Linked DNA regions of Homo sapiens. The protein of the gene in region 1 purifies or fractionates together with the protein of each later gene. This does not show direct contact. Each region holds a gene or a part of one and is shown in the gene's direction. Other genes may lie near its edges.

The links.
Region 2: the proteins of SLC24A2 (region 1) and CKAP5 purify together in Homo sapiens (affinity purification with mass spectrometry, with the first as the bait; one large-scale study listed by BioGRID). This does not show direct contact.
Region 3: the proteins of SLC24A2 (region 1) and SMC2 purify together in Homo sapiens (affinity purification with mass spectrometry; one large-scale study listed by BioGRID and IntAct). This does not show direct contact.
Region 4: the proteins of SLC24A2 (region 1) and AFG3L2 purify together in Homo sapiens (affinity purification with mass spectrometry, with the first as the bait; one large-scale study listed by BioGRID). This does not show direct contact.
Region 5: the proteins of SLC24A2 (region 1) and PEX11B purify together in Homo sapiens (affinity purification with mass spectrometry; one large-scale study listed by BioGRID and IntAct). This does not show direct contact.

What each region holds. Positions count from the first base shown.
Region 1 is NC_000009.12:19,506,794-19,510,620, reverse strand, and holds the end of SLC24A2 (sodium/potassium/calcium exchanger 2), read left to right. Parts: 3' UTR 1-3,166; downstream 3,167-3,827. UniProt on the Homo sapiens protein: Calcium, potassium:sodium antiporter that transports 1 Ca(2+) and 1 K(+) in exchange for 4 Na(+). Required for learming and memory by regulating neuronal Ca(2+), which is essential for the development of synaptic plasticity.
Region 2 is NC_000011.10:46,835,919-46,840,203, reverse strand, and holds part of CKAP5 (cytoskeleton-associated protein 5), read left to right. Parts: intron 1-4,285. UniProt on the Homo sapiens protein: Binds to the plus end of microtubules and regulates microtubule dynamics and microtubule organization. Acts as a processive microtubule polymerase. Promotes cytoplasmic microtubule nucleation and elongation. Plays a major role in organizing spindle poles.
Region 3 is NC_000009.12:104,096,956-104,101,240, forward strand, and holds part of SMC2 (structural maintenance of chromosomes protein 2), read left to right. Parts: intron 1-1,490; coding exon 1,491-1,613; intron 1,614-2,688; coding exon 2,689-2,727; intron 2,728-3,137; coding exon 3,138-3,248; intron 3,249-3,433; coding exon 3,434-3,478; intron 3,479-4,285. UniProt on the Homo sapiens protein: Central component of the condensin complex, a complex required for conversion of interphase chromatin into mitotic-like condense chromosomes.
Region 4 is NC_000018.10:12,352,711-12,356,995, reverse strand, and holds part of AFG3L2 (mitochondrial inner membrane m-AAA protease component AFG3L2), read left to right. Parts: intron 1-164; coding exon 165-302; intron 303-3,837; coding exon 3,838-3,991; intron 3,992-4,285. UniProt on the Homo sapiens protein: Catalytic component of the m-AAA protease, a protease that plays a key role in proteostasis of inner mitochondrial membrane proteins, and which is essential for axonal and neuron development.
Region 5 is NC_000001.11:145,913,249-145,916,467, reverse strand, and holds part of PEX11B (peroxisomal membrane protein 11B), read left to right. Parts: intron 1-3,219. UniProt on the Homo sapiens protein: Involved in peroxisomal proliferation. May regulate peroxisome division by recruiting the dynamin-related GTPase DNM1L to the peroxisomal membrane. Promotes membrane protrusion and elongation on the peroxisomal surface.

The sequences.
Region 1 (3,827 bases):
GGGTTTGTCTAGCCTATCACGCTAATCCAAAGGACAGTCCTCTTACGGGGGAGATCCCAGCATAGATGCTGGTGTGACCCAGCTCAATGATTAACAACCATCAGCATCAAGAAAAGCCTCCCTCCAAGTTAACCCAAACCCATCCACTTAATGACTTAACTTTTTTTTTTTTTTTTTTTTTTTTTGGCAAAAAGTAACTGCATCTGGGCACTCTTCACTCTTTGCCCCATAGTTGGAAGTTACCGCTATGTGACTCTTTACCTATTTTCAATTAAAATTATCTTTAGATTTTTATTTGAGTCTTTAACCCTCTTAATAATTTTTATAGTTCCTCTCTACTAAGCCTTTTTAAGTTCTTTATATTGTTCTTAAATGATGGAACCTTATGACTAATGATAATCACTGTCTGAACAGTGTTGAACTATACTGGGTGCAGCATGACCATGAAGCTCTGGTGAAGTCAAGGTCACAAACTGCTTTTAAGGTCATTAGGTCATAATCTCAGACTCACAAAGAACTCAAAATTGGGGAGACACCACTTTAGATTACTCCAAAACTCTGGGCCTGTACTTACCCACTAATTTATCAAGAGGAATCAATATTTTTATTTTAAATATGAAACTGGGATAAATGATTGGATCTCCACTTATTAACCAGTACTGCAGTGTGTTTATATCCTTTTGTGTGGTAGGTTGGATAGGATTTGTAAAGCTACTGATTGATCTCATGGGCCAGGGTTCACCAAAAGGATGGGAATTTGTTTCTGCATTCTTACATATTGGGTTGCATATTCCTTCATAATGGATCCATAAGTAACTAAGGCCTTGGAGACTAACAGTTCTCCAAAATACTCAGCTAACCAAAAGAAAATACTAATTTTTAAAATCATGTCATAAAAAACAGAAAAGTAAAAAAAGTCTGAAATCCTGAATAAAATTATTTTAAGGATGAAATTACATGCATAAATTAAGGGTAGATAACTTCTTGCCATTTAATTAAACAAATCCCCAATTCTTATCAGAATAAAACTGAAGGACAATGGATGCCTTTTGGGTTTTTTAATTTTTTAATATTGCACTTTATAGTACTTCATAAGAGACAACTGTCTTAATTAAAGCCATAAAATACCAATAATACATATATTCAGGGCTTCTGAATATAGTCAATCAATAAGCAGTCCATGAGTCATTCCTGTTTTGTATTGTTTATTGTAAATTGGAGTTTATCTGTTCTATTTTTTATTAACTACAATTATTGTTCTAGGCAATCCTAATCTACTTATACATTTTAGATGTGTGCTTTAATAAAACTGTTTGAAAATCAAAGAAATTATTCATTTCACAAAAGCAGTCTTCGTTTTCAAAATAGCTTATTACAGTTTCTTTAGCAAGTTCTAATACTACATGGAAATTATTTTAAAATTGTAGATTTTTTTCAGGAATCCATTTTGTTATATAAAGCAAAGTTCACCCATATGGAAAATGAAATAGATAATTAGCAAACATATACCTGGGAAATGTAGGATGTGTTTGAGCTTTTATATAAATATAGGATGGGTCTAAGAAGTTCCCTTATAAAAATGGGAAATAGAGGTATACAATTTATCAATAATTCCTTATGCCTAAATTACTAACCTTCCTTGGGAGGACATGTAAAGCAGCAGATTTCATAATGCTTTGGTGGTTATTTTCCTCCTCTCCGCTAAAATACACAATTTCTAACCTAGTATGGTACACTGTTTACACACACATATATAAAGATGTCCCCACAACTAAAAACTTTAATGTTTCAACTTCATCACAAATTTTTATATAATTTTTTTTTTAACAGACAGGGTCTTGCTCTGTCACCCAGGCTAGAGTGCAGTGGTGCAATCATAGCTCAGTGTAGCCTCAAACACCTGGACTCAAGCGATCCTCCCACTTCAGCCTCTTGAGTAGCTGGGACCTCAGGCACATGCCACCATGCCTGGCTAATTTTGTTGTTGTTGTTAAGAGATGGAGTCTCACTATGTTACCCAGGCTGGTCTCAAACTCCTGGGCTCAAGAGATCCTCCTGCTTTGGCCTCCCAAAGTGCTGGGATTAAAGGAATGAGCCACCATACCCAGCCCTTTTATGTAATTTGAGTAAAAGTAATTACTAAAAAGCACTTAATAGTCTAGAAATCCACCAGAACTGGGTACCTAAATTGTCCATATAGAGTAAACATGGGTACTAAACTGGACAACCCCATCAATTTTATGCTTAAGTGGCCAAATTGCCCTAAAGAAAGGGTATCTGAACCAAGGGCCAGTGATATTCCTCTGTTAGAGGCTGTTTTGTGGTCTGAAGAGTTTCTCTAAAGGGCTGAGACTCTATTCGGAAGAGGGAGCCTCAGTTACTGAATTGCGCTATTGAACCCTGAACACAAAGTACACATATATACCCTGCATCTAGCCTTGATATTTCTTCTGCTCAAGTCAAAAAACTCCGGAAGCAACAGCTTCCACCATCAAGCAATCCACATACTTAAAAAGCCATCAAAGCTAAGAATAGCAAAAGCTACCTTCCTGATTCAGTGAAGTTGCTGCTAGCACTAAAAGCAAGAGAAATTATACTTTTGTTCTTCAGATACGGTTAAAACAAAGAAAATGTTGTCAACGTTGACGCCAACATAGACATTTGCTCTATAACATATAAACTGTCTTTTAGACAGGTTATGTTAAAAATATCAGAATGCCATTTTTGTAAAGGATCTTTTTTAGGATAGACGTGGTCTCATGCTTCCTTTGTTCGCCTCCGTTTTAAAGGAGCATTGTAACCCCTATCCTCATCCCTACAAAAATCCAGTGGATGCACTTCCAAATTACTTCTGTCATTTTGTATGTGTTGTGTTTATTATGCGTAATTTTCACTGGATGATGAGATACATGGTGATACTATGTCAGTTTATTCTCTGTGAATATGTCTGTACATAGACAGGAAGCTCTACTTATTTGTACATAGGCTGTCTGAAGTATGTACTTCTGTCACATGGACTTCATTCTGATAAAGGGTGTTTCTTCTTGTTTCACTGTCCATACCTTTGTGCTTCTACTACTGATAATCAATTCATAGAATATCACTTTATGTAACTAAGTCTCCTCAGTGTGAAAAATAATAGTAATAAAATTATTGACTCAAAGAAGTATTGTTTTGTTTGGAGTAATTCTTACTTGTGGCTAATCAGGACCCTCAGGGTCACAAGAAATACATACATGGTCATGGAAGTTTAATTGCAGAGATTCAAGGGGACAACAGGGAAAGCAAGAGTTACTGTTAATTATATAGATGCTCCTCAATTTATGATGAGGTACATCCTAATAAGCCTATAAGTTAAAATATTAAGTCAAAAATGCATTTAACACACCTAATCTGCTGAACATTACAGTTTAGCCTAGTCTACATTAAAGTTGCTCAGAACACCTACACTAGCCTACAGTTGAGCAAAATCATCTAACACAAAACCTATTTTATACTAAAGTGTGGAAGATCTCATATAATTTATTGACGTTCTACTGAAAGTGCGTTGCTTCTGAACCATTGTAAAGTCAAAAATCATTAAGATAAATGAATCATCAGGACTGAGGGACCATCTGTAACTACCACTTATTGAGTGCTTACTAATATCATTTGAGCTTTTAAATATCTGTGGGAACATTGTACACTCAAGGGACTACTCCAAAGCAATTGAATTTTAATCAATTAAATATATTGAAAGTGTAAATTCAAAGGACTAGTGTTGCCTAAGCCTTGAAGTTCAACTTAAAAGTCTTGTTATAAATCTAATATTTTATATGAAAATAAGA
Region 2 (4,285 bases), on another chromosome or scaffold:
TACTAGCAGTAGCTAACATGTATTGAATGCCTACTGGGTCCCACATTTTGTTTAATTAATTAATTAATTAATTTTTTTGAGACAGGATCTCACTCTGTCGCCCAGGCTGGAGTGTAGTGGTGTGATCATGGCTCACTGTAGACTCAACCTCCTGGGCTCAATCTGTCCTCCCACCTCAGCCTCCCAAGTAGGTGGGCCTACAGGCACATGCTAATTTTTGTATTTTTTGTAGAGATGGGGTTTTGCCATGTTACTCAGGCTGGTCTCAAACTCCTGGGCTTAAGCAATCTGCCCTCCTTACCCTCCCAAATTGCTGGGGTTACAAGCATGAGCCAACATGTCCCGCTACATTTTATCTTTTTTTATCCTCACAATGTTTTACAGATGAGGAAACTGAGTCTTTAAAAGGCTGTGCAACATGCTCAAAATCATAGAACTAAGTGATAGAATCTGAATTCAAACCCAAGTCAGTCTGTCTCCAGGGCCTTTGCTCTTAACCTATGATTGTACTACGTGAAGTAGGGATCTGTAGGAGAATTCAGGAGCAATTTCTGGGTAGAATTCCCCCAGCCCCTTTTAAAAAAGTACTTCTATCGGAGATGTGATGAAATATGAATGACAGGCATGATAGTTTTTAGAGGAAAGATGGCATTTACCATATGGAAGATGGACAACTGTGACAGTGGTGGCGGTGGGTAGCTAAAGGGACGCATAAAAATTGAGTTCTTAATCTAATTAGGATTCTTGGTAGTCAATGTTGGAGAGTTTTAAGGTTTTTAAATGATTTTCCTATTCTTGCCTCTGGAGTTTAGAATACATTACTTAGCTCATTTCTATCAGGGCAGTTACTCTACCTACTTGATGTGTATAACTCCAACACATTACGCTTATTCTTTTCGGTCTTTGCATTCTGTTCTGGAACTTCTCACTTCACTCTACCCCTACCCCCAGCCTGTATTACTGGCACTCTCAGGCTTCAACTTAAATGTCATCTCCTTAAAGAGACACTTTTCTGAGCTCTGAATTAGAGGAGCCCTCTTGGTCACTTTTACTTCACTTTTCCTTATTTACTTCATAGCATATATTGTTATGTAATTGTTTATTGTTTGTCTATATATTGTTAGATTTTCTCATAAAAATGAAAGCAGAACATAGATTTTTTTTTTCCTTTGAGGTTACCTCAGTGACTCAACAATGCCTGCAACAAACTAGGTGGTCAAAAATATTTGTTGAACAAAATTGGCCAAAACTGGCATCATCTTCTCTGAACAAAAAAGTGATAAAAACAGTATCTGACTATTCAGTTGGCTGTGTTTCTGTGTCTTTATTTATTTTTTTTTATTTTTATATTCTAAAAATGTTGCGACAATGGTGGCTCAGCAATTTTTTTTTTTTTTTTTTTTTTTTTTTGAGATGGGGTCCCACTCTGTCTCCTAGGCTGGAGTGTGTTGGCCTGATCTCTGCTTACTGCAACCTTCACCTCCCGGGCTCAAGGGATCCTCTCACCTCAGCCTCTAGTGGCTGGGACTACAGGCGAGTGCCACCACACCCGGCTAATTTTTTTTTTTTTTTTTTTTTTTTTTTTTGAAGAGGCAAGGTATTACTATGTTGCCCAGGATGGTCTTGAACTCTTGGACTCAAGTGATCTGCCTGCCTCGGCCTCCCAAAGTGCTAAAGTGCTAGGATTACAGGCGTGAGCCACCGTGTCTGGCTGTCATTTTTTTCTTTTTGTGGAGACACAGTCTCAGTATGTTGCCTAAGCTGGTCTTGAACTCCTGGCCTCAAACAATCCTCTCGCTCCAGCATCCAAAGTGCTGGGATTACTGGTGTGAGCCACTGCACCAGGCTTGTTCCTGTGTTTTTGGGTGTAAGCAGTATCTTAACAGTCTCAATTAGTCTTAAAATTATTTTAGACTAGTTCAGAAAGTCTTTAAGAAAGCTAGAAAAATTATACATCTGAATTTTTTAAAAAAATTTTAATCTGTTTTGAGAGGTACTAGTCAAATACATTGTAAGATGTCCTTCTATTGGAATTTGTCTGATGTTTTTCTCATTAGACTGGAGTTACAGGTTTTGGGCAGGAAGACCACAGAGGTAAAGTGCCATTTTCATCACATCATATCAAGGGTACATGCTATCAACATGATTTATGACTTAATATTGACCTTGACTGTTCATATTGACCTGAAATAGTGTTTGTGAGGTTTCTACAGTGAATTTACTTTTTTTTCCCCTCCTTTTCTATACTGTATTCTTTGAAGGGAAGTCACTGTTTGCAGCCCACACTTAAGGAATGGGGAGTTCCTTGATCTTAGGGTGGAGTACCTACTTAATTTATTTGAAATTCTTGTCTCTCCTTTCCCATTTATTAGTTTAGTCAAGTATTTACTGATAATAGTGTGGACTCAAGTATATTTATTTTATATTTTAGGTTACACTCCAATATTACATTATTTTGTTGTTCAGGTTGTTCCAGCTTTGTCCTTTGGGAGCTTCCTGTATTCCTTTAACATACATGTGTGTGTGTGTGCGCGTATTTGTATTGATCTTTGAGTACTTCCTTACTATCTGGAAATGTTCCAGGCTCATCTTGTGTATTTCTTGTCCCAGTGCTAGAATCAGCCATTTCCCCAAGGTGCCCTGGTTCCCTTATTGGAGAATGCTATTAGAAACAAGACCTGGGTACTGAGTGTTCTCTTTGCTACTGGGGTGTCATTTCTTTTAGGTCCTTTCAACTGTTAGAGCAAAGAAATATATGAATGTATGCTAACCCCATGTATATAGACATATCTATAAATATTTCTCTATGTAGCCATCTGTGTCTATATTAAGTTAAACGAGTTCCATAGATCACTTTCAGTAGTATGGGCGGGGGGGAAAAACATGAGTTCCTACTGGTGTCTCCAATTCTGATCCATTATCACATAGATCATTCTAGCCTCCTCCCCTTGCTGATCTTTGAATTTCCATTCACAATAGTGAAAAACCTAATTTCCACCATCCATTTATTTAATTGTCCAGTTCCATTATATATGGATATACATACATGGATAGCAGTATCAGAATTGCTAACCCATACTCCATGAAAAAAACTTTATCAACTAGAGTACATACTTCTGTGCAGTTCCTTTTGCCCTTAATCTTTCAGACTCCACTCATTACCAAAGCTACTTAGGTCAGAACCTTTTTCCCACCCCCTTTGGTGAAGTTGTTTCACACATCTGTAATATAGATTCCCTTGTCATAGTCTTCATTCTTTTCTGCAATCTCCCAGTCTCCTAAATGACTTTTTAAAATTTGCATACATTAAAGTTCACTCTTTATGTCATAAAAGTCTCGAACTCCTGCCTTGGCCTCCCAAAAGTGCTGGGATTAACAGTACAACCCACTGTGCCCAGCTGACATAAATTTTTAATTCAGTTGGATAAATACCTAGAAGCAGGTTGCTGGATCATATGGTAAGACTAGTTATAGTTTTGTAAGAAACTGCCAAACTCTATTCCAGAGTGGCTGTACCATTTTGCATTCCTATTAGCAATGAATGAGAGTTCCTCTTGCTCCACGTTCTTAACAGCACTTAGTTCTATCTGGTTTTTGGATTTTAGCCCTTCTGGTAGGTATGTAGTGTCCCCACTTTATTATTATTATTATTTTAAAGAGATGGGGTCTCACTGTGTTGACCAGGCTGGTCTCAAACTCCTGGCCTCAAGCAATCCTCCCATCTCAGCCTCCTGAAATGCTAGGATTATAGGTTTGAGCCACTGTGCCTGACCTAGTGTTCTCACTTTTTAAAATTATTCGTTTTCACGACATTACCTTTTTTGAAAATAAATGTTAGTTTTTTAAGAGGAAACTTTTTAAAAATTAACTTTATTTTGGAATAATTATAGATTGTTCCAACAGAAAAGTTGCAAAGATGATGTGTAGGATTCCTGCATACCTCTCACCCAGTGTGCCCTGTTATTAACATCGTTTAAACAAACTCCAGATTCTGTTTGTGTTTCAACAGTTTTTCTATTCATGTGCCCATTCTGTTTCAGGATCCAATTCAGGGTAACATATTGCACTTCGTGGTCATCTCTATTAGCCTTCTCTGGTCTTTGGCAATTTCTCAGTCCTTCCTTGTTTTCATGACCATGACCATTTTGAGGAGTACTAGTCAGTTGTTTTGTAGACTGCCCTTCTCTTTGTCTTTGTCTGATATTTTTCTCATGATTAGTCAAGAATTACGTGTTTTTGGAAAGAATACCATAGAATACCATATCATATCAGGGGTTTTGTGATA
Region 3 (4,285 bases), about 85 Mb from region 1:
TGGAGTTATTCTTTCATTTTAGATATTCTACTTTTATTTTTCCCAGTAGAGCATTGGGGTGTTCATAATACATTGTGGATTCATATTAGATTTACTTGAAACCACTCAATTTTTTTTTAGGTGTGTTATTAATATAGTCAGGCAGTGTTTTCAGCTTGTCAAGGTTTTTTTTTTTTTTTTTTTTTTTCCTGAGACGGAGTCTCGCTCTGTTACCCAGGCTGGTCTCCATCTCCCGGGTTCAAGAGATTCTTCTGCCTCAGCCTCCTGAGTAGCTGGGACTACAGGTGCCCACCACCACACCCGGCTAATTTTTTTTTGTTTTTTGTATTTTTAGTAGAGACGGGATTTCGCTATGTTGGCCAGGGTGGTCTCAATCTCCTGACCTCATGATCTGCCCGCCTTGGCCTCCCAAAGTGCTAGGATTACAGGTGTGAGCCACGGCGCCTGGCCCAAGATTTTGTTTTTAAAAATGTTGTCAACTCCTATTTACTGTCCATCTTATCATTTATCACTTACAGATTTTCTCCTCTATTTTAATGGAAGCCTCTGGTTGAAAAAAAAAAAAAAAAAAGAAGCGTAGGCCACGTTAGGACAGAATCCTGTTCCATGTCATTAGGCATCCATCAAATATTTATCCTTTAGGAACTGTCACTAAGTCTCTTACTAATAATCTACCTAATTGTTCCTGTCCTCATTCAGGCCATAAACTTGTATCTTCACCAAAATTATAAAATTTTTGTCAGAGAAGGGTCTTCAAATACATTAATATATGAACTACCAACCTAGTAGTCCTGTCAGGAAAAGAAATGAACTAACATTTATTCAATATTTATTAAATAGTTGATGTATATTGGGTGTTCTTGAATGTACTGGGATGTACAGTTAGAAGAATGAGAAACAGAGCTTGTCTTTAAGGACTTCAATCTGGTAGATGAGACAATCATACCCAATAAATGACAATTTAAGTGTGATAGTAGAGTATGGTGTCTGGGATGACTTAATGAAACCATACTGAAGCTCCATGATTACCCTTTCTTTTAAATGGTCATAAATCATGTCTTTATTAATAGCTTTTTGAATCTTGTCAAGAATTGATACTAAGCTACTTTGTCTGACATCTATTCCTGTTGAAAAGTAGAGAAAGCCTCTAGAAAAATTACAGAAAGAAAGTAACTAGGAAAGTGTGTTTTACATATACTTGGAAACATAAAGCTAGAAGTTACCTCGGAGACCTAGTCTGGTGCAGGCCAGGGTAAGAGGCTTGTGTGTAATTACATAACTAGTTACCAAAAGTACTTGCATTAGATACTAGCTGTCCTGACTCAAGTTAGCGTTTTTGACCATGTCATACTTGTTCCACTATTTATGCAGAATTGGTTTTGTTTACTGCTAGTCAGACAGAACAAATAAACGTAAGCTAATATACTTAGTTTATCCTAGCACAAGGTGTGCATGTACATTAATATTTAAAAAATTGCTTTCTTTTATAGGTGGTTATTGGTGGTAGAAATAAATATTTAATCAATGGAGTCAATGCCAACAACACCAGAGTACAGGATCTCTTCTGTTCTGTTGGCCTTAATGTTAACAACCCTCACTTTCTCATCATGCAGGTATTTCGTTTGAGGTCTTTATATCACTTTCGTAATAGTTTCGACATTTTTTACTTTTAAGCAATTAAAATAGAAGTACTTTATGTTTTGGATTTTATACTTTTTATTTACTATTGTGCTGTGTCCGGCCATCTGTTTAGAAATATGGTTTAGTTACTTGCACTGATATATTCTACTGGATTATAGACCTTTGACTCCTCTAGAATGTTTAGAAGTAATTTTTGTTGACTTTTTGTTTTGTCACTAAAAGAACAATACATGTTAACTGTAAAAAAAAAAAAGCCATAATATATCCTTTTAAATTATTGGATTAATGCATCTTAATATTTCAAGTATAAAAGCTTGAGTAATTTTCTTAGAGACTCACACAAATGAGGAGTAAAGGCTGATTTTATCTTACATTTACATTACTTCATTTGACCCATCCAGCTGCCGTTTGAGAGAATTATAGTAAAGTCGATGGGAGCATCTCAGTGGGACCAAAATAAAAATATTTCCACTACACACCTTCATAGTTGAAACTTTACTTTAAATGAATCTACATTCTAGTAATACAATTCTCTGAGACCTGGGTGTGCAGGTGTTTTGCTTTATTTGTTTTTGGTAATGAATAAATTTAATGGTTTTCTGGCATTGATGTAAAATATTGTATTTTGTTTGAGGCCTAGAAGTATGTCATCTGTTTTGTGAAATTATCCTGGAGGGTTATCATTCAAAGAAATGTTAAAAGTTTTTTAATTATGCTGAAATTTCTTTTTATATTTACCTGTTTTAAATTTGAATATTTCTACTTAATGTTAACTGTCTCAGAAACATGATCCTTGTTAACTTTGTATCATTTAATGAATTATTTCATTTGTATCATTTCATAACTTCCATAATTTGTATCACTGGTGAGAAAGTGAATAGCAAAGTTCCAAAATTCTAGAATCATAGAAGAATTATAGAGGAAAGACCCCCCCAAAGATTGGTATATTGAGATACAACAGCTTCAGTCTAGATAAACATGAATGGCAGTACAGATAAACATTTTCTGTAATTTGTTATCTTAGTAAGTTTGCTATTTTATTTTCAGGGCCGAATTACAAAAGTATTGAATATGAAACCTCCAGAGGTAAGAGTACTATTTATGGACATTAAAAATAGTTGGTATAGATATTACTTTAATCTTTCAGACAATTTTTAAATATTCTATTAAAATTTTTGGAGACATTATTTGGGAATGATTAGTAAAGACAGTTGTATATTTGTGTAATATTTGGCACTATGCCCAAATATTAAAATTGATTTTGATTGTATAAAGGAGTCTTGCTTAGCTGGTGTTTCATGTCAGAATTCATTCCTACAGAAAAAGCCTACAGGAAAAGGTTTGTGTGAAATTACTATATTTAACCTATATGGTTCATTTGGGCCAACTTTTGGTAAGATGTTTAGTGAGGTCAAGGCAAAAATGATATATTTAATGTAAATTCCAGTTGGACACATTGTCTTGGATACTAAACATTAATAAAATTGTCATTCCAGATTTTATCCATGATAGAAGAAGCAGCTGGAACCAGGATGTATGAATACAAAAAAATAGCTGCACAGAAAACTATAGAAAAAAAGGAGGCTAAGCTGAAAGAAATTAAGACGGTAATTTAATTCATATAAAATATTTTCGGAGAAGAATGTAATTTTGCATGTAGAGTTTTTGCTGTAAAGAGGGAAAAATTTTTTTCCTTGGTTCAGTTTTCCATAGTCATCCCTGCTACTTCTCTTTCAAATAAATTTTAATGATACTTTACATGCGAAAATACTGATTTTTCTTTATTTTCCAGATACTTGAAGAAGAGATTACTCCAACCATTCAAAAATTAAAAGAGGTATATTCTGTATATGTGAGGATAATCTATTAGAATGTCTTTCAAAGTCAGCAATGTATCCAAAATCATACACATAGTGATACTATTTCTTGGGGGTTTTTTTCCTGCGATGAGATAAGGAATTAGAGTTGGCACTCCATAACTCAGCGTTCTGCTTACAGAGGATATGCACTTATCTGCTAAGTCATAGGATATTGGAGAGTAATTTTTATAGTTTCAGAAAATGGTATGCCGAATTTTAATACTTTATTTAAGCTAAGCAAGTCTGGATTTTCCTAGTTAGTTAGCATTGACTGGAACAACATTTCTTAAAGATAAGGCACTCTTAGACACCCTCATTGAGAACAATTTCCAGGATAACAGGGGCTATCACTATAATTATTGCTATCAAGGTATTTTGTAAGCAAAAGGTATTGAAACAGAGGATTGGATTGTCTCTGTAATCTTTGCAGCTCCTGACTGTCAAAAGACATGGCACAATATGTCATCAAAAAATGCATTTATGAGCTACGTTTTCTTTTTCTTGAGACTAGTCTCACTGTCGCCCAGGCTGGAGTGCAGTGGTGTCATCACAGCTCACTGCAGCCTCCACCTCCCGGTCTCAAGGGATCCTCCCACCTTAGCCTTCTGAGTAGCTGGGACTACAGGTGCATGCCACCACACCCTGCTAGTTTATTTTTTTGTAGAGACAGGGTTTCTCATTGTTTCTCAGGCTGGTCTTGAACTCCTGGGCTCAAGTGATCCACCTGCCTCGGCCTCGCAAAGTGCTGGGATTACAGGAGTGAGCCACTGTGCCCAGCCAAACGA
Region 4 (4,285 bases), on another chromosome or scaffold:
CTTACTAATATAAAAATGTTCTACCATAGCTCAGATGTTTAAGTAATATTTAATATATATCAATAAGATTTAGAGACAGAGTTATATCTTGTAATTATTTGTGGATACACAATTTACTTTTCTGGAATTCTCATTAAATGTAATTTCTTTTTTCATATCTGAAGGGTGCCATTCTCACTGGTCCTCCAGGCACTGGGAAGACGCTGCTAGCTAAGGCCACAGCCGGAGAAGCCAATGTCCCCTTCATCACCGTTAGTGGATCTGAGTTTTTGGAGATGTTCGTTGGTGTGGGCCCTGCTAGAGTGAGTCTCATTCTGTTCGGATGGTACAGCTTCCTTGCACCCACCACTTCACCACAGATGGAGGCACTTGCTAGAGATGGCCCTTCCCCCTAGAGTGCTAGAGTGACCTCTCACCAGTCCCTGGCCTGAGCTCTCCTCCAGGCCTAAGACTTCAGCAAGGCCTGTGACTTCCACCCCACCTTCCCTCGCACCAGCTAGGACTGCAGTCTGCTACCTATAGTAGACCAATTTAAAGAATTGACGGCTGGGCGCGGTGGCTCATGCCTGTAATTCCAGCACTTTGGAAGGCTGAAGTGGGTGGAACGCTTGAAGTCAGGAGTTCGAGACCAGCCTGGCCAACATGGCGAAACCCTGTCTGTACTAAAAATAGAAAAATTAGCCAGGCGTGGTCGCGCATGCCTATAATCCCAGCTATTTCGGAGGCTGAGGCAGGAGAATCTCTTGAACCCAGGCGGCAGAAGTTGCAGTGAACCAAGATGACACCACTGCATTCCAGCCTGGGCAACAGAGTGAGACGCTGTCTCAAAAAAAAAAAAAAAATTTTGCTTTATTTGTGGATTTTTTTTTTTTTTGGTGACAACATTTATTGAGATATAATTGACATACCAAACAATTGATCCCTGTAAAGTATACAGTTCAGTAGCTTTTAGTAATTCACAGATTTGTGCAACCATCACCACAATCAGTTTTACAACATTTCCATTACATCAAGAAGAAATCGTGGCCGGGCGTGGTGGCTCACACTTGATATCCCAGCACTTTGGGAGGCCAAGGCAGGCGGATCAGGAGGTCTGGAGATCGAGACCATCCTGGCTAACATGGTGAAACACCATCTCTACTAAAAAAACAAAACCAAAATTAGCCATGCGTGGTGGCGGGCGCCTGTAGTCCCAGCTACTTGGGAGGCTGAGGCAGGAGAATGGCGTGAACCTGGGAGGCAGAGCTTGCAGTGAGCTGAGATCACGCCACTGCACTCCAGCTTGGGTGACAGAGTGAGACTCGTCTCAAAAAAAAAAAAAATATGTAAATCGGGAGTCCTAAGCAAACTACCCAAAGGAATTTCCTAGTACAGACATTCCATGTAAATGAAATTATACAATATGTGGTTTTTTTATGCCTGATTTCTTTCACTTAACATGTTTTTGAATGGTAACTCCATGTTTAACATTTTAAGGAACCACCAGACTGTTTTCCAAACTACTTGCCCATTTTCCATCCCTACCAGCAATGTGTAAGGGGTTCTGATGTTTCCCCGCCCTTACCAACACTTTGATGATAGCCACCTTAGTGGGTGTGATGTAGTATCTCGTGGTTTTGATTTGCATTTCCATGATGAGGAGTGATGTTGAACATCTTGTATATGCTTATTGGCCATTTGTATATTTGTATATCTTCCTTGGAGAGTTGTCTATTCAGATCCTTTGCTCATTTTTTAATTGGGTTTTTTTGGTTGTTGAATTGTAAGAGTTCTTTTTTTTTTTTTTTAATTTTTTTTGAGATGGAGTCTTGCTCTGTCGCCCAGGCTGGAGTGCAGCGGCATAACCTCTGCCTCCCGGGTTCAAGTGATTCTGCCTCAGCCTCCCTAGTAGCTGGGATTGCAGGCACCCACCACCATGCCCAGCTAATTTTTGTATTTTTAGTAGAGATGGGGTTTCACTATGTTGGCCAGGCTGGTATTGAACTCCTCACTTCAGGTGATGCACCCCCTGCCTTGCCCTCCTAAAGTGCTGGGATTACAGGCGTGAGCCACCTTGTCCGGCCTCACCTTCACATCTATTTCACACTTTGCTGTTGTTGTGCAGATAAGTCATAGAAAAATAGGGAATGAGGGGGAGTTGGGTGTTAATGATGATGGGCCATGAGATATAAAGTGGATGGGGGGAAATTGAAGACAGGAGAGGAGCTGTGGGGGGTGGTGGGGAAGGGTGGGCCTGGTGGGTTGCAGAGCTGAGAAGTGGTAAAGAGTTGGCGTGAGATACCTGAGTGTGTCTGTGGGTCCAGATGATAGGAGGGGGTGCTCAGAGAGTAGATGACTTGAAGATGGTGGTTTAAAAGGCAACCTTGGCAGTGCTGGTCTTGTCAGAGTGAAGTAAAAGGTGAATGAAGGGGTGGTCAGGGAACTGAGAGACCGAGAGCCACATGGATGGAAATCACTGAGGACATCATGCCTAGTGGCAGTCAGGCTGGGGGAGACCCATGGCACAGTGGGGTGGAGTGCCTGCCACAAGGCCTGAGCCTCAGCAAGCAGGGGCTTTTCCAGCAGTTATTTTGGCAGCAGCAGTGGGGTGTGAGGTGGACCCCAGCTCCAGTTAGCCTGTAGGGGAAGATGCAGACTCCTGCTTAAGGCTTGCTGGAATGGCTGAGTTCCTGTTCATGCCGGGATGGGATGGATGTACTATGAAGGTGTGGGTCTGTAGGTCACAGATCTGGAATTCAGAGGGGAGGCTGGAGAAGGATACCAGTTATTTTAGGGGATGTGTTCAGAGCAGTGTAGGAATGAACATCCAGAAATCCAGGCAGGAAGACCTGGACTTCTGTCCAGTGAAGTGGGGGGGGGGGGGTGGGAGTGGGCAGGTGGAGAGTTGTCTCTGATTCTCCTTGAAGGGGCAGGTGACTGATGGTGAGGTGCTGAGTGGCTCTTCCTCCTCTTCCTGACTGCAGGTTTGTCTGAGGGTATGTGCTATCAGGATGGTCTGTGGTGGGGTGGGTGGCAGACGAAGGCTGTCACCCCCTCTTTGGGGATGAGCTGATGGGCTTGGATGGTCTTTGGCTTCACTGTATATGTGTGATTGCATAGACTCCTTAGTAGCCTCAGCTTGTTAATAACTGTGTTAGGCATGAAATGTGAACTCTAGAGAAGTCTGAACTTTTCAACTGAATGTAAAGTTTACAGCTCTACTGTGTTGTCTTTGTTTAGGTATATATGTAATGTTAATTTGTTGATGTTACAAAAATAGCAGATATTATCAGTGTTTATTACATATACAGTAATTTATGGGATCTGAGAAAGATTTGCTCACCTTAAGTCGGTTACCCAGGTTACTCCTCATTTGCTGCTGCTTTGCTACTTGTAACTCTTTTAAAAAATGTACCTTACAGTGTGTATCACAAAAAGATTGTCTGCACATGGGACGGGAAGCTGAAGATTTATTTCATTTTTTTTTTTTTTTTTTTTTTTTGAGACAGAATTTCGCTCTTGTTGCCCAGGCAGGAGTGCAATGGCTCAGTCTCAGCTCACTGCAACCTCTGCCTCCCAGGTTCAAGCGATTCTCCTGCCTCAGCCTCCTGAGTAGCTGGGATCACAGGCACGCGCCACCATGCCTGCCTAATTTTGTATTTTTAGTAGAGATGGGGTTTCTCCATGTTGGTCAGGCTGGTCTCGAACTCCTGACCTCAGGTGATCCACCAGCCTCGGCCTCCCACAGTGCTGGGATTACAGGCATGAGCCACTGTGCCCGGCCGATTTATTTCATTTCTTATTCAGAGAATACATAATATTCTCTGGTCAGGTGACTCTCTTTCTGTTTTTGCCAAGGTCCGAGACTTATTTGCCCTTGCTCGGAAGAATGCCCCTTGCATCCTCTTCATCGATGAAATCGATGCGGTGGGAAGGAAGAGAGGAAGAGGCAACTTTGGAGGGCAGAGTGAGCAGGAGAACACACTCAACCAGCTGCTGGTGGAGATGGATGGTGAGTGGTCAAGGCTTTTGTATCTTTAACTGCACTTTTGTTTTTTTTTTTGAGATGGAGTCTGACTCTGTCGTCCAGGCTGAAGTGAGTGGTGTGATTTCGGCTCACTGCATCCTCTGACCCCTGGGTTCAAGCGATCCTCCTGCCTCAGTCTCCTGAGTTTAAGCTGCACTTTTTATGCCTTTCATGTCCCCAAAATGAGAGTCCTTATTCCAATATTGAGTATCACAAACAAAAAAAAGCATTCCCTAAAACAAACAGCTCTTTTAAAAGGCCCTTTTATACTAATACAAA
Region 5 (3,219 bases), on another chromosome or scaffold:
TAAACAGATAATGTGCCTGCTCCCATGAAGCTTCTAGTTTAGTGAGGGAGTTAGATACTACAATGAATAACTTCTCATATATATTTGTGGAAAAGTATGCGGTATTATGAAAGAATATCACAAGGGGAGCTAATTTAGATTGGAAAATCAGGAAAAAACTCTTTGAGAAAGTAATATTTTAGCTCAGACCTGATGTCTGAGTAGGAGGAGTTAGACAAAGCCAACAGTAGCAGAAAAGACATTTCCAAACAGAGAAAATTGCACATTCTAAGTAAGGCTTTGAACTAAGAAAGACTTAAGGGAATTAGAGAAATAGAAAGAAAGCCAGTGTGATTGACAGTATTGAGTCCATCAGTTCAAATTTGAGAGATAGACAGGCACCAGATCTTTCATACAGGGCCTTTTAGGCAATGTTAATGTTTGTTTTATTTTATCCTACAATGGGACATTATTGAAGGATTCTGAGCAGGGAAATGACATGATTCAAATTGTGTTTAAAGGACATCTCTTTTTGAGATGTTGAAAATGGATTGCAGGCCGGGCGCAGTGGCTCACGCCTGTAATCCCAGCACTTTGGGAGGCCGAGGTTGGGGGGATCACGAGGTCAGGACTTCAAGACCAGCCTGGCCAACGTGGCAAAACCCCGTCTCTACTAAAATTACAAAAATTAGCCAGGTGTGGTGGCGGGCACCTGTAATCCCAGCTACTCGGGAGGCTGAGGCAGGAGACTCGCTTGAACCCGGGAGGCAAAGGTTGCAGTGAGCCGAGATCGTGCTATTGCACTCCAGCCTAGGTGACAAGAGCAAGACTCCATCTCAAAAAAAAAAAAAAAAGAAAAGAAAAGAAAAGAAAATGGATTGCAGTGGGTCAAGAGAGGAGGAGATGCCCTAATACGAGCAAGAGATGACGTTGGCTTGGACAAAGGAGGTAGCTGACAATAAAGGTAGAGAGAAATATGATGTGGGAGTAAAATTCTCTAACATATTATCTGTATTGTTTTTCGTTTTCCTATGATTGTACTTTTTCATTATATTAACCTTGCTTTTCCCTTCATCTTTCTCAGTGATTTACAACTTTAACATGGCTTATGATGTATGAGGGGTGGGAGCAGAGGCATGGCTGGAGCAGTATGGAAAAGCAACTCCCTAAAGGAGTCTATATGTTATATTTATTCATTTCATCCAACAGATACTTACTGAGCTCTTACTATATGGTAGGCACCAGTGTACATACAGGGATACAGTGGTTAAAGATAAACAAGGCCGGCCAGGTGCGGTGGCTCATGCCTGTAATCCCAGCACTTTGGGAGGCCAAGGCGGGCGGATCACCTGAGGTCAGGAGTTTTGAGACCAGCCTGACCGGCATGGAGAAACCCCGTCTCTACTAAAAATACAAAATTAGCCGGGTGTGGTGGCGCATGCCTGTAATCCCAGCTACTCGGGAGGTTGAGGCAGGAGAATCGCTTGAACCCGGGAGGCAGAGTTTGTGGTGAGCCGAGATCGTGCCATTGTACTCTAGCCTGGGCAACAACAGTGAAATACCGTCTCAAAAAAAAAGAAAAGACAAACAAGGCCTCTGCTCCTCTGGAACTTACCTTGTAATGGGATGAGATAAACATAAATAAACAATAAATTAAAATATCAGATACTGGTAAATGTTATGCAGGAAATTAAAACAGTGTTATGGAGTAGAGAGTAACTGACTCAGTGCTTTAGATTTAGGGATAAGGGAAGGCGTCTCCGAAGAGGTGATACTTAAGCTCATACCTGAAGAGCAAGAAAGAGCTAGCTATGTGAGGGTTTTGGAGGGAGAATATTCCAGGTGGAGGGAGAATATTCCAGGTAGAGGGAATAGGTAGTGCAAAGGTCCTAAGGCAAGAACAAGCTTGATGGGATTAAAATGTAGAAGGAAACCAACATGGTTGGAGCATAATGATTGCAGGAAAGAATGATACAAGGTAAAGTTAGAGGGGTAGGGACCAGATGTTGAGTCTGTAAGCCTCTCTAAGGTATTTATATTTTATTATGAATGTGACAGGAAGAAAACCATGGAGAGCTGTGGTTTGTTTATTTGTTTTTGGTTTTTTTTTTTTTTGAGATGGAGTCTTGCTCTGTCGCCCAGGCTGGAGCGCAATGGTGCAATCTCAGCTCACTGCAACGTCCATCTCTTGGGTTCAAGTGATTCTGCTGCCTCAGCCTCCTGAGTAGCTGGGATTACAGGCACGCGCCACCACACCCAGCTAATTTTTGTATTTTTAGTAGAGACAGGGTTTCACCACGTTGGTCAGGCTAGTCTCCAACTCCTGACCTCATGATCCACTTGCCTCCACCTCCCGAAGTGCTGGGATTATAGGCGTGAGCCACCACGCCTGGCCAACCATGGAGAGTTTTAAGAAGGGAAGTAATGATGTGATTTATGTTTATGCTAGCTATTATATGAAAATAGATTGTTGGGGGTGGGGGCAACAATGGCCACAGTGAGACCAGTTAAAACATTAAAGCAGAAGTCCAGACAAGAGATGTTAGTGGCTTAGAGTATGGCAGTGCGGTGTGATAGAGAGATGTGGTTGGTTGGGTTCAGGATATACTTTGAAGGTAGTACAAGTTATTGAGTACAGACCACCATTGTCAGATTGGATTACAAATAAAAAACATGGATTTTTTACTGAAGAAATTTATAATTTAACACATTTGGCAATTACTTAAACCTCTGGGCCTCTAAAGGAATAGGGATTGGATTTAGATCACCTTTAATATGTTTGAGTCTCTGAGACATCTGAAATTTGTTCTTTCAAAACAAGTTTGCCTTGTTATAGGTCAAGTTGAGAGAGAGATGGAGAGTGTGTGTGTGTGTGTGTGTGTGTGTGTGTGTGTGTTGCCAAGTGGAAAATGAAATTTGAGATTGACCTTGGAAGATTTCATGATGCTCATGGAGTTTAAACCAGGATCTTAAGGTGCACATAAACATGTATTAGTTACAGAATGTTGGGAGGACTTTGTTTCTTCATTTTTATTGGGACATAATTGACAAATAGAAATTACATATATTTAAGGAGTTATAGCTCGATGTTTGTACATGTACGTTGTGACATGATCACCACAGTCAAGCTAATTAACATATCCATCACCTCACATAATTACCTTTTTTCTTTTATGGTAAGAACACTTAAGATCTACCTTCCTGGCAGATTTCAAATATACAATACAGTATTGTTAACTA